2 separate regions of the Homo sapiens genome follow, and region 1 is linked to region 2. The links come from fine-mapping of genetic effects on gene expression. A gene starts in region 2. The other region holds a variant in brackets. All regions are shown on one strand. Distances are between the middles of the regions.

Region 1 (5,388 bases), 220 kb after region 2:
TTTACAAAACTGGTACTTTCGGTTGGTAACTCTTTTCAAAGCAATAATTCAAAGACTCTAGCTCATTTCCCCAATGTCTATGGAATCCTCATCATTGGCTTCTAGGATCACCATGCTTATCTGTACTAGACTGAAGAAATATGGAGAATTGTGCCTGGAAAGTTTTCAAGGGTCAGTCCTGGAATAAATGCATTTATTTAAAACTCAGTCACATGACCATACCTATCTGCCAAGGTTCCAGAAAATATAATCCTGATCCATGACTAGGAAGAAGATAAAATAAGTTTGATGAATAGTTACCCAGTCTCCACCATAGCAGAAGAAGCCCATTCTATTTGAGATTCAGAGATCGGCAAAATAAACTCAGTAGGCAAGAGGCATAGAGAAGGTTGGAAGTCCTATAGCAGCTTAATTAAAGCGCCCTGGCCGGGCGCGGTGGCTCACGCCTGTAATCCCAGCACTTTGGGAGGCTGAGGAAAGCAGATTAGGAGGTCAGGAGATCGAGACCATCCTGGCTAACACGGTGAAACCCCGTCTCTACTAAAAATACCAAAAATGAGCTGGGCGTGGTGGCAGGCGCCTGTAGTCCCAGCTACTCGGGAGGCTGAGGCAGGAGAATGGCGTGAACCCGGCAGGTGGAGGTTGCAGTGAGCCAAGATCGTGCCACTGCACTCCAGCCTGGGCGACAGAGCAAGACTCCGTCTCAAAAAAAAAAAAAAAAAGCATCCAATCAGTCTCCAACACTCAAGAATTATTTGTGAGATTCTTATAGAACTAAAATCTGTCACTAGCTAGTTCTCCTGTCTTCTTTCATGGCACCTGAGAGTTTGAAAAATAAAAGGTTATGAATTGTATGCATGCCATTTTTTTTTTCTGTATTGTATGCATGAAACCATCAAAGATGGAATTCTTTCTACCTGTAGATATCCATTTCTCCTCCAAGAGATCTCAGGTCCCATGACAATGTCACCACTTCTGCTCCTCCTCTGCAAGTGTAATGAAGAGGGTATTTCAGTGGAAGCAATGTATTACTTTCCCTCTCTTGGATTATGACTTGAAAGAATAACATTCACACATTTGTGAACCTGTTCATGCCCCACTTCAGTTATCAGTATTATTCCTCATTGCTTCCCTGCACATGTAGGTTAATATCCTCACTCACCTTTTCTATTCTTGCACCCCTTCCATGCAGGCAAAATGTTATACAGTTTTCAACCCTCATTGATCACATCCCAAACTCCCTCCACTTTGATCACTTGTAGTAGAGTCAGTGTCTCTCACCCATAAGACTTTGAGTTCTCATTAAACTGTGAAGTCAGAGCTTATTACATTTTTATCTTTGCATCCCTAGTACCTAGCAAAATGTCTGCCAGTGGCCAAATGCTCAGAAATTACTGGTAAATGATTTGAAGATTTCCACTGACTATGCTGGTCTACCCTGTTCTGAACTTCACATCAAAACCTATATGTTGAGAGTTTTCATTATGACAAAAATATACTGTGGTCAACATCTTGAATGTAGTGTTAGTTATGATGATATATACCGTTTCTAAAATTTCTCCATATGCACATTGAAAATGAATACATTTTATTACATGTAAATTCTTAAGAGATGTAATTTTAAAAAAGAGCTACTGAAATGCTAAACAAGACAGAAAAATGTCCCTCGAGATTCTTGCTATTGAGCTGACGACCAAATTCAGGCACTTGCAGAGTAGTTGACCTTCTCTTAAGAAGGAGCCCTCCTCTGTGCCCTCACTATAAGAAGGAGCCTCCCAACATTAGATTTTCTCTTGAAGAGCCCTTTGGACTGTTGTTCTGTCTGAGAGCTACTGGAGAATCTCTTTGATAGCTTTGCTTTTGACGGTTTTCTCTGGAGAAAGGTCTAATAGAAGCAAACAGTTAAAACCCTTTTCCATCCTTCACGTTTTTTAAAAAAAGTCTCCCTTTTAATATGATTTTCTAACTCTGTAGCTTCTTTGTGTCATTTTGTTCCTACAAGTGTTCATATATACTTTTAGGTCACATGCATTTCCACACACAATCTGAATGTTTCCTACACCATAGAGAAGGTGTTAGAGACTGGATACTTATACAATGTTATTTAGGGGTCGGGGAAGAGGGAGACTCTATTCCTTAAAACAAGGAACACAAAATTAAAAATATAAAACATGATATAAAAGTAAATATTGGCCAGGGCGCGGTGACCCACTCTTGTAATCCCAGCACTTTGGGAGGCTGAGGTGGGCAGATCACCTAAGGCTGGGAGTTTGAGACCAGCCTGACCAACATGGAGAAACCCTGTCTCTACTAAAAATACAAAATTAGCCAGGTGTGGTGGCACATGCCTGTAATCCCAGCTACTCGGGAGGATGAGGCAGGAGAATTCCTTGAACCTGGGAGGCGGAGGTTGTGGTGAGCCGAGATCACACCATTGCACTCCAGCCTGGGCAACACGAGTGAAACTCCGTCTAAAAAAAAAAAAAAAAGTAAAAACAATGTAAATATTTATCTATAGTGAGACAAGTAATCAAAACCAAAATATGGAGGCTTGGAGATATAGGTCCCTTTCTTCCAGGAGCTCTCGGTAATTTACTAGAAATGCTTCCACAGAAATACTTTTGATTTAAAGATAGATTTTTCTTTCACCCAGAACTTTCTCTAAGTTCTACCAAATTATCTCAATTTGATTGTAATTTAAATGGAAAACATAAAACTACAAACTTTTAGAATATAACATCGAGGCACATTTTTGAGCCCCAGGGCCTGCTGACATGTTCTTAGACATGATACCGAAAGCATAATCCATAAAGGAAAAAAAAAACAGAATTAATTGGACTTTATCAAAACTAAAAATATTTCATCTACGAAAGTAAAAAATGTATGTATGCACAACAATCTGTACATGATTGTTCACAGCATTTCTATTTTTAACGGCCCTAAACTGGAAAAACTAAAATACTCCTCAATAAGTGAATAGTTAAACAGGTTGTGGTACATCTATATCATGAAATACTGCTCAGCAAAAACAAAAGAAGACCTAACAACAAGAAGAACAACAAAAGTGTTGTTAGATGCACCAACTTGGATGGATCTCAAGGGCAGTATGCTGAGTGAAAAAAGCCAATCTCATAAGGTCACAACCTTCTTGAAATAAAGACAATACAGGGATTGGAAACAGATTAGTGGTGGTCATGGGTTAACCATGGCTGTAGTGCAGGGAGAGGATGGGTCTGAGATGGAACAGTTTTGCATTTAGATTGTGGTAGTGCCTATAC[C/A]TTACACATGTGATTAACTGATATAAACTATATACATATATTGTATCAATGTCAATTTCCTGGTTTAAATAGTGTGCTATAGTTACGTTAAATGAATTCATGGCAGAAACTTGATGAAAAGTACCCAGGACCCCCCTGTCTTTGCACCTTCTAGTGAATTCATAATTATTTCAAAATAAAAAATTTAAAGCTTAAATGTTAGCACTTACACAAGTGGATTACTTTATTACTTCTGGGATATGTACAAATTTGGGTCCTCTTAGTGTCTCCATGATTTTACATGAGGTTGTTCTAACATAAAAAAAAAAAAACAAACTACGTAAAGAGTGTTTTTAAAAGTGAGAAGAAACTACTGCTAGTTTGAGAAAGGGCTAGATCCTAATCAGTAAATAGAAAATCAGTTAACATTCAAATCATGTTTAATTATTTTATCTTGGAATGCACACGATTACTGTTTTATTTTTTACTTTTTAGAGACAGCGTCTAGCTCTGTCACCCAGGCTGGAGCACAGTGGCATGAACACAGCTCACTGCAACCTCCTCATCCCAGGCTCATGTGATACTCCAACCTCAGCCTCCTGAGTGGCTGGGACCACTGGAATATGGCACATACCTGGCTTTTTTGTTTGTTTGTTTTAATTTTTCTTGTAGAGATGAGGTCTCATTATGTTGCCCAGGCTGGTCTCAAACTCCTGGGTTCAAGCGGTTCTCCTGCTTTCCAGCCTCCCAAAGTGCTGGGATTACAGGTGTTAGCCACCACACCCAGCCTATGATTATGATTTTATTCATTAGTCTATGTACCAATATTTAAAAGAAGAATTTGTATCTTGCATGTGTGCACAATTATACCTTACACATAAATGAGTTTGAAATGGTAAAACGGCAAACCTCTAGACTATGACAGCCAAAGACAGGTATTTGATCCTTGAAAATAGAAAATAATATAGGCAATGACTTTTGCAAAATAGTGAGATATTTCCAGGTAACATTTATTCTGAAGGATTTGCTTTCCTATCACTGCAAAGATGGCCTTTTCAACCCTCTCACCATCATCTCATTTGCTGAGATGAGAGAGAGGAGAGAGGGGACAAATGGATATACAGATATATGGGGGCTGGGGGAGACAGAGAGAAACTGTGTTTTCTGGGGCAGGCATAGGTAACATTTACAGATACCTGTCCAAAGTACACACATATATTTCTATAGTCCTAGCATTGCACACGTATTACTCTAAAATGCTGGCATTTTCTGTCAATCTGCTTGGTAGCAAATGCTGAGGAACAAACCAATCACTGGATCTAGGAGCCAAGAACTAACAGAGACTCTGTGCTTTATGTGTGAGCATTTAACTACTGTAGATGGAGACCTGCACGTATTTAAATTGAATATCAGTCCTGTGTAAAGAGTGATTATTCTGATGCTTCTCCGCATCAGATATAAAGTTATATGGAGTCCAAAGACCATCAATAGAGGATTACTCGTAGCCCATCTAATTTTGGAAAACAATAGAGGAGTTTTCTGGTGTGAGGTGAACAGCCTGCTGTTTTCTTTGCCTGGAATGCATTTTCCTCCTCTTCCATGCTTCACCTCCACTCCCCTTACCTAGTTAATACCCACTCATGGCTCAACATTTGCTCAGCTGGTGTTTACCTACGAAGCCTTCTTATTCCTTAGATGAAAATAATTACCCCATGTTCCACTGCCCAGTCAGAGTTAAACAGAACTTCTTTTTTTTTATTTTTCTTTTTAAGAATATAGAGTCTTTAATGTGGTCAGAATTAAGTTGCTATCAGTTTAAAATAGCCTGTTACAAGTGTATTTTATATAAGCCTCATAGTAACCACAAGCAAAATCTATATTAGATACAGAAAAGATTTTTTTTTTAAAAAAGGTTTCAGGCCAGGCACTATGGCTCATGCCTGTAATCCCAGCACTTTGGGAGGCCGAGGTGGGTGGATCACCTGAGGTCAGGAGTTCAAGACCAGCGTGGCCAACATGGTGAAACCCCTTCTCTAATAAAAAAATACAAAAATTAGCTGGGCGTGGTGGCAGGTGCCTGTAATCCCAGCTACTTGGGAGGCTGAGGCAGGAGAATCCCTTGAACCTGGGA
Region 2 (5,388 bases):
AAGAATACACCCTCAGGTATATCATTTTCTGTTACAAAATAATTAAATAGATGTCTATTGCATGTCTTTTAGTTTGGTAATCTGGGAAATGGAATTGTTTCAGTTCTGCTTGAGATACCCATGGAATAGCATTCATTGAGTTACTGAAATGGTAATACTTTCAATCGCTGCCTTTTTTCTTCTATTGAAAATACTTTAATGCTATGTTATTGGAGTTCAGTATGATAGTTAAAATGGAGAGGCATAGTTAAATAATAGATTGTTCTGAAAAGTTACGCTTTCTGACAGTTTTTTTTTTTCCTATGACTTGTTTCTTTGAGCTCTTAGAAATGGCTGATGGCAGTTCTTTACTGGAGTGTTTTGGCAAGTGGTCATTGACTTTTGACAGTCTGTGATAATTCAAACAGCAAAGGGACATTTTATAATCCATAAGAATGCATTTGCTGTATTATTTTACAGGAGGAGTATTTTATAGAATGAGGAGGCAGTTCACCTCCCATTAGTCATCTGTGTGTTTCTTCATTTTCCATATTGTACCCAATCTGCAGTTCTTACTAGGACAAAGCATCCTTTTAAATTAACAAGAAACAAAGATCAAATAAAAAGCGCTGAATCAGACCCATTAACACCATATTAATTATGCAGTGAATACACAGTACTATTTACAGTGGACCTTTCTAAGACCAAACAATGATGTTAAAAACTCAGTTTATTCCAGGATTAGGCAAGCCTCCATAAATTTTCTATTTATCTTTAAATGCAAATGCTTATTCATTGCATAACATCGAAAGACATGGTTACTCCTACTTAGTCCTCCACAAACATCATTAGATATTTAGATGACCAATAATTTTTAATTGTGTCAATAAAGTCAGTGGAATGCTTGGCTCTGCAGAGACATAAGAATTCAAATACTTTAAGTAGACTAGATGGAAGAAAAACATATGGAGGGTAGAGTGTGAAGAGCTGTGAGCTGGGGAGAAGAGCTTGATAATTATTATTAAAATTATCTAAATGTGAAAAAATCTAGGTCTCTCTAAACATTCTTAATTCTTAGTGCTTGCAATGCCTCAGGTACCTTGAAATAGTTACCCATATGCCTGCTTATGTATTTCCGTTTTGTGTTTGTGTTTGTATGCGTGTTTGCCTAAGTGTAGTTTCTCCTGGCAGCAGCGTGTGTTTGGTGTACGTGTGCATATGTATGAGTACGAATTAATTACATATCGAAAACATGTGCATTAACGGCATCTGCAGTCCTCCCTCCCTGCTCCAGTCAGTCGGGATGTTTAGCACCGTCACTTGGTGTTAGGACCACTCGGAAGACCTGCCTGTCGGACGCCTGACTGTGGTTCCCGGGGGGCCGGAGCTCCAGGAGCCTGTACCATCTTTATCTGAAGGGGAGGAGAGAAGGAAAGGAGAAGGCATCCGAGCGAGGGTGTTCTCCTTCCTGCAGCCGGGTAGGGGGCAGCCAGGTTTGGAGCAGGGTTCTAGGATTACACGGCAAATCCCCAACTTCAGCACCGCGGACAGCATCACCTCCCGCCCAGGGAGAGGCGCGCGCCTCCTTGCTCCGCCCCCGCCCCAGCTGATGGACCCCGGCCGGTCGGCTCAGTCTCCCTTTTGCTTTCAAACGAGGCCAGGGCAGGGCAGAAGGGTTTTGACAGCCAGAGGGGTACGGTAAGGAGGAGGAAGAGGAGGAGGAGGCGGAGGAGGAGGAGGAGCCGAGGAGGGAACCGAGAAGGGAAGAGAAGGGAGGGCTTCCCTCCGCCTCGCTCGCCGCCCGGGCTCACAGGAGCTGGCGGCGGCGGCGGCGGCGGCGGCGTCTCCTGCTCTCCGCGGCTGTTGCTGCTGCTCGCGCTCCGCCGCCCGGGAGATGCTTCCTCGCGCGGCGCAGCGCTGAGGCCGTGCGTGCGCCCCGGCTGCGCTGCGCGCTCCCCACATACACAAGCTCTCCATGTGAGCTGACAGGCGAGTGGAAACCCCTCGAGTCACGCTGCCCGGCGGCGGAGGGAGCGCTCGCCCGCAGTGGCAACAGCTGCACCACCGTCCCCGTCGCTCTGCCTTCCTCTTCTGCAGCCTCTGCTCTTCTGATTACCTCCCTCCCCCGTCCTTTGGTGATTTTTTTTTTTCAAGAAGGAGAGGGCGGGGTAGGTGTCCGTTCCCTCCCCTCTTCCCCCTCCTTTGCCTTCTTGGTTTGAATTTCCTCCCCCGGCGTTGCACTGGCACACAGTGCAAGAGGCAATACCCGCACGGAGGGAGAACGAAGGCTGAGACTCCCCTGCCGCTCCAAGCCCGGAAGAACTGGAGCCTGGAGGGGGGTGAGGGGAGAAGAGGAAGCGGGAGGGGCTTGGCTTCCTCGCGTATTTGAGGACAGCCCATCTCCCTTCAAGAACCCTACGGAGAGTCGGACTGCATCTCCGCAGCGAGCTCTTGGAGCGCCGCCGGCCGGGAGGCGAAGGATGCAGGCGGCTCCGCGCGCCGGCTGCGGGGCAGCGCTCCTGCTGTGGATTGTCAGCAGCTGCCTCTGCAGAGCCTGGACGGCTCCCTCCACGTCCCGTAAGTAGCCGTCTCCTCGCTCTGCTCTGGAGCAGTTTCAGTGCGGCATTGATGTTTGGCACCAGGGTATCAACTCCGAAGTGCATCGCAGTGCTGGCACCCTGATGTGTTTGTGTCTCCGCTGTCACACACTTGCAGCCACTGCAGTAGACAAACTCGAAACCCAGCGTTTCTGTTTTGGAAGAGACAGGGTTGTGACGCTGGTGATGTTTCTGGAAAGTTGTTCCTGGTCTTGGTGATCGGTTGGCAAGAGCTTGGCTAGAGAGACTGATGTAGATGGCAGCTTCTTAGGAGTTGTTTGTGCAGGGAGAGTTAACTGCATTTGGCTTAGGTAGGTCAGTGAATGAAAAGTGAAGACCATGGCAAAACCAAGTTTCTTATTTTTATTTATGGTTATAACTTAATGAGCACGGGGTTGAGGTTAACAAGAGGAGCATGTTTTAAACAGTTTGGGCACCTATAGGGTCTCTTTAACCTCTCCCGTTCCCTTAAAAAGTTAATGCCCATTTAGTACTTGCTTATTAAAATGGAAGGCAGCGAAATTGTAACTGAAATTGCTTTAATTCTTTGATACTTTGATATCATGGATATGACTGATGCAGTACGGTACTTGGGACACTCAGTGCAAAGCGTCGTTAATGTAGTAATAAACAGATTCTTAATAGGGTTTTCAGGAAAATAATTATATTCAATATGTATATCTCTGCATTTTAATCAACTGTGTGTGTGTGTTTGTGTGTGTGTGTGTTTAAGACTGCCCCTGTTTTCATGAGGTTTAGAAAGAAATGGAAGATTCTGGCCCATTTTCTGCATTCCTTTAGAAGTGCATACTGTGCATGTAGAGAGGAAATGCATGATTGTTCCTTTGGTTCAGAAAGAGTTAAACACTAGAAAGACTGCCTATAGGAATCTTAGGATAATATTCATAAGCGCATACTAGTTTCTGAGAATGAGTAAGTTGATAAAGAATTATCGTGGAGATTTCAGAGTTTAAAAGGAAGATTTTTTTGTCCATTTAGGAAAAGAAAAGTTTAATATTTTCCAGAATTCGTCATATGCGAAGTAGTCTTTGTTTCTAAGATTTTGGGATGTATTAATGCATCTTTGTTAATAATGATCTTATTGTAGTGGTAAATATCAACAGGAATAGCATTGAAAAAGGACATTATAAGTTGTAATAAGGAATCTACTATATAATATCCGGTTATGAGCCAGTATTACTGTTTTGACATATCTTCCTAAGTACAGTATTAGCTTTTCTTTTCCCACAATGTGTAAAGATAAGGAGATAAACTAACTGGCAATCTAAGTTTGTAATGAACTTGAAAACATTGTATAGCATTTTTTATAACACAAGTTAAATCACAAAGAGTTAAATATTGTTAATATTTATGTCAATTTTATAAATTTAAACAAATTTTGGGGATATAATGCTTGCTGTTGATATTTACACAAATATGTAACTCTATCACTGGGAAACTAGTTTGATGAAATTTCTGTTTCCATTTCAAGGTCTGGTTGTATAGAATTTCCTGCCACTTTTCCTGGAAAATAAACTCCTCATATATTAAATTTATTATATTCACTGATTGAAGGTCCTCATATCCAGGGTTTTTCCTGGGTTCTGTGTTCCATCATTCTGTATACTTTAATTTTGATGGGTCCATCTGAAACATCTGCCATGAGTAGCAAATGGAACACTGGCAGCCCTTGGGTTAATGCATTTTAAGATAAAAAAGTTGTTATTTCATAAATATTTTCTGAGTTTTCAACTTTATAGTTAGAATTTGAAGACAGAGAACATAGAAACAATTACTTTTAAGATGGTTAATAGTTATGGCCATTAAGATTTTTTATTAACTTGGCTTTCATTCTCTATTGTTTAAAAATGTGTAATGGCTTAATTAAGGTGGCTTTTTATTTCGTTTGAATTTAAACTGTGTGACCAAAATGCAAAGTTGCCCTATATCCTGGAAATGAATTAAATAATAAGGATGCTACAGAACTTTATTGATTAGAATGAGTTTCATGGATTCAGTACTTTAAATATCAACTGTACTTTACATTAATGAACATTTTTATTTACATTATATATAGCTCTGAAGAAAAGTATGATAGTTATATTCTTAATATAAAACATTCAAAGGAGAAAAAGATGGAAACTACATGAATCTAAGATAATGAGCAACTCAACCAGGAGAGGTCATCACAAGACAAAAAGTAGCATGAAAATCTAAAACTATCATTTTTCTTTGGTACACATTTTTAAAATGTGATGAGTATGCTAAAACTTTCTGTTCCTAAATACCTTTTTAATATGAGGGACAGAAGATGTTTATTTCACAACAACTGCATTTCAAATATGTATTTGCTTATGACTTATTTCTTTTTCTCTGTCGACAGACATATAAAAACTGTTAATACTATGTGTTGTACAAGCAGACTAGAATAAACTTGAAAACAAAGCTCATCACTATGGTTATGTAAAAATATAATCTAATTTCTTTGCAGATAGCGAAAATGAACTGCTGCTGAGCTGATGTAACAAATCGTGTATCTTCCCTTCCTGTAAATGTAGATACACGGGACACACGTGGGAAGTTTAAAGAAAATATTTCACTCTTAGGGAGTTGCATTTATTTGAACATATTATAAAGACCTTGATGGTGCAGTTCTAAATGATGAGGAGATTAAGCTAGCGCTTAATAAATTCACTTTTTAGAGTTAACTGAATTTTCACTTAAATAAATGATCTCTCATAAAGGCCAATTTACATCATTTAGTAGAACTATTAACCTATAATTTCATTGACCAACACATTTGGGAAATGTG

Evidence for each region. PIP is the estimated chance that this variant, and not a neighbour inherited with it, causes the effect. A credible set is the group of variants that fine-mapping cannot tell apart.
Region 1: its variant is the best candidate, but not a certain one, in a credible set for the expression of CNTNAP2 in whole blood (TOPMed, PIP 0.52).

The regions. Positions count from the first base shown.
Region 1 is chr7:146,333,726-146,339,113 of GRCh38, forward strand. The region is part of intron 1 of CNTNAP2 (contactin associated protein 2); the gene reads left to right. Among named protein-coding and RNA genes, the nearest start is that of CNTNAP2, 220 kb to the left of the region's middle. The variant C/A (reference allele first, on the strand shown) is at 3,279.
Region 2 is chr7:146,114,418-146,119,805 of GRCh38, forward strand. CNTNAP2 (contactin associated protein 2) reads left to right here and starts at 2,384. Exons shown (of 24, transcript NM_014141.6): 1 at 2,384-2,556. The coding sequence starts at 2,460.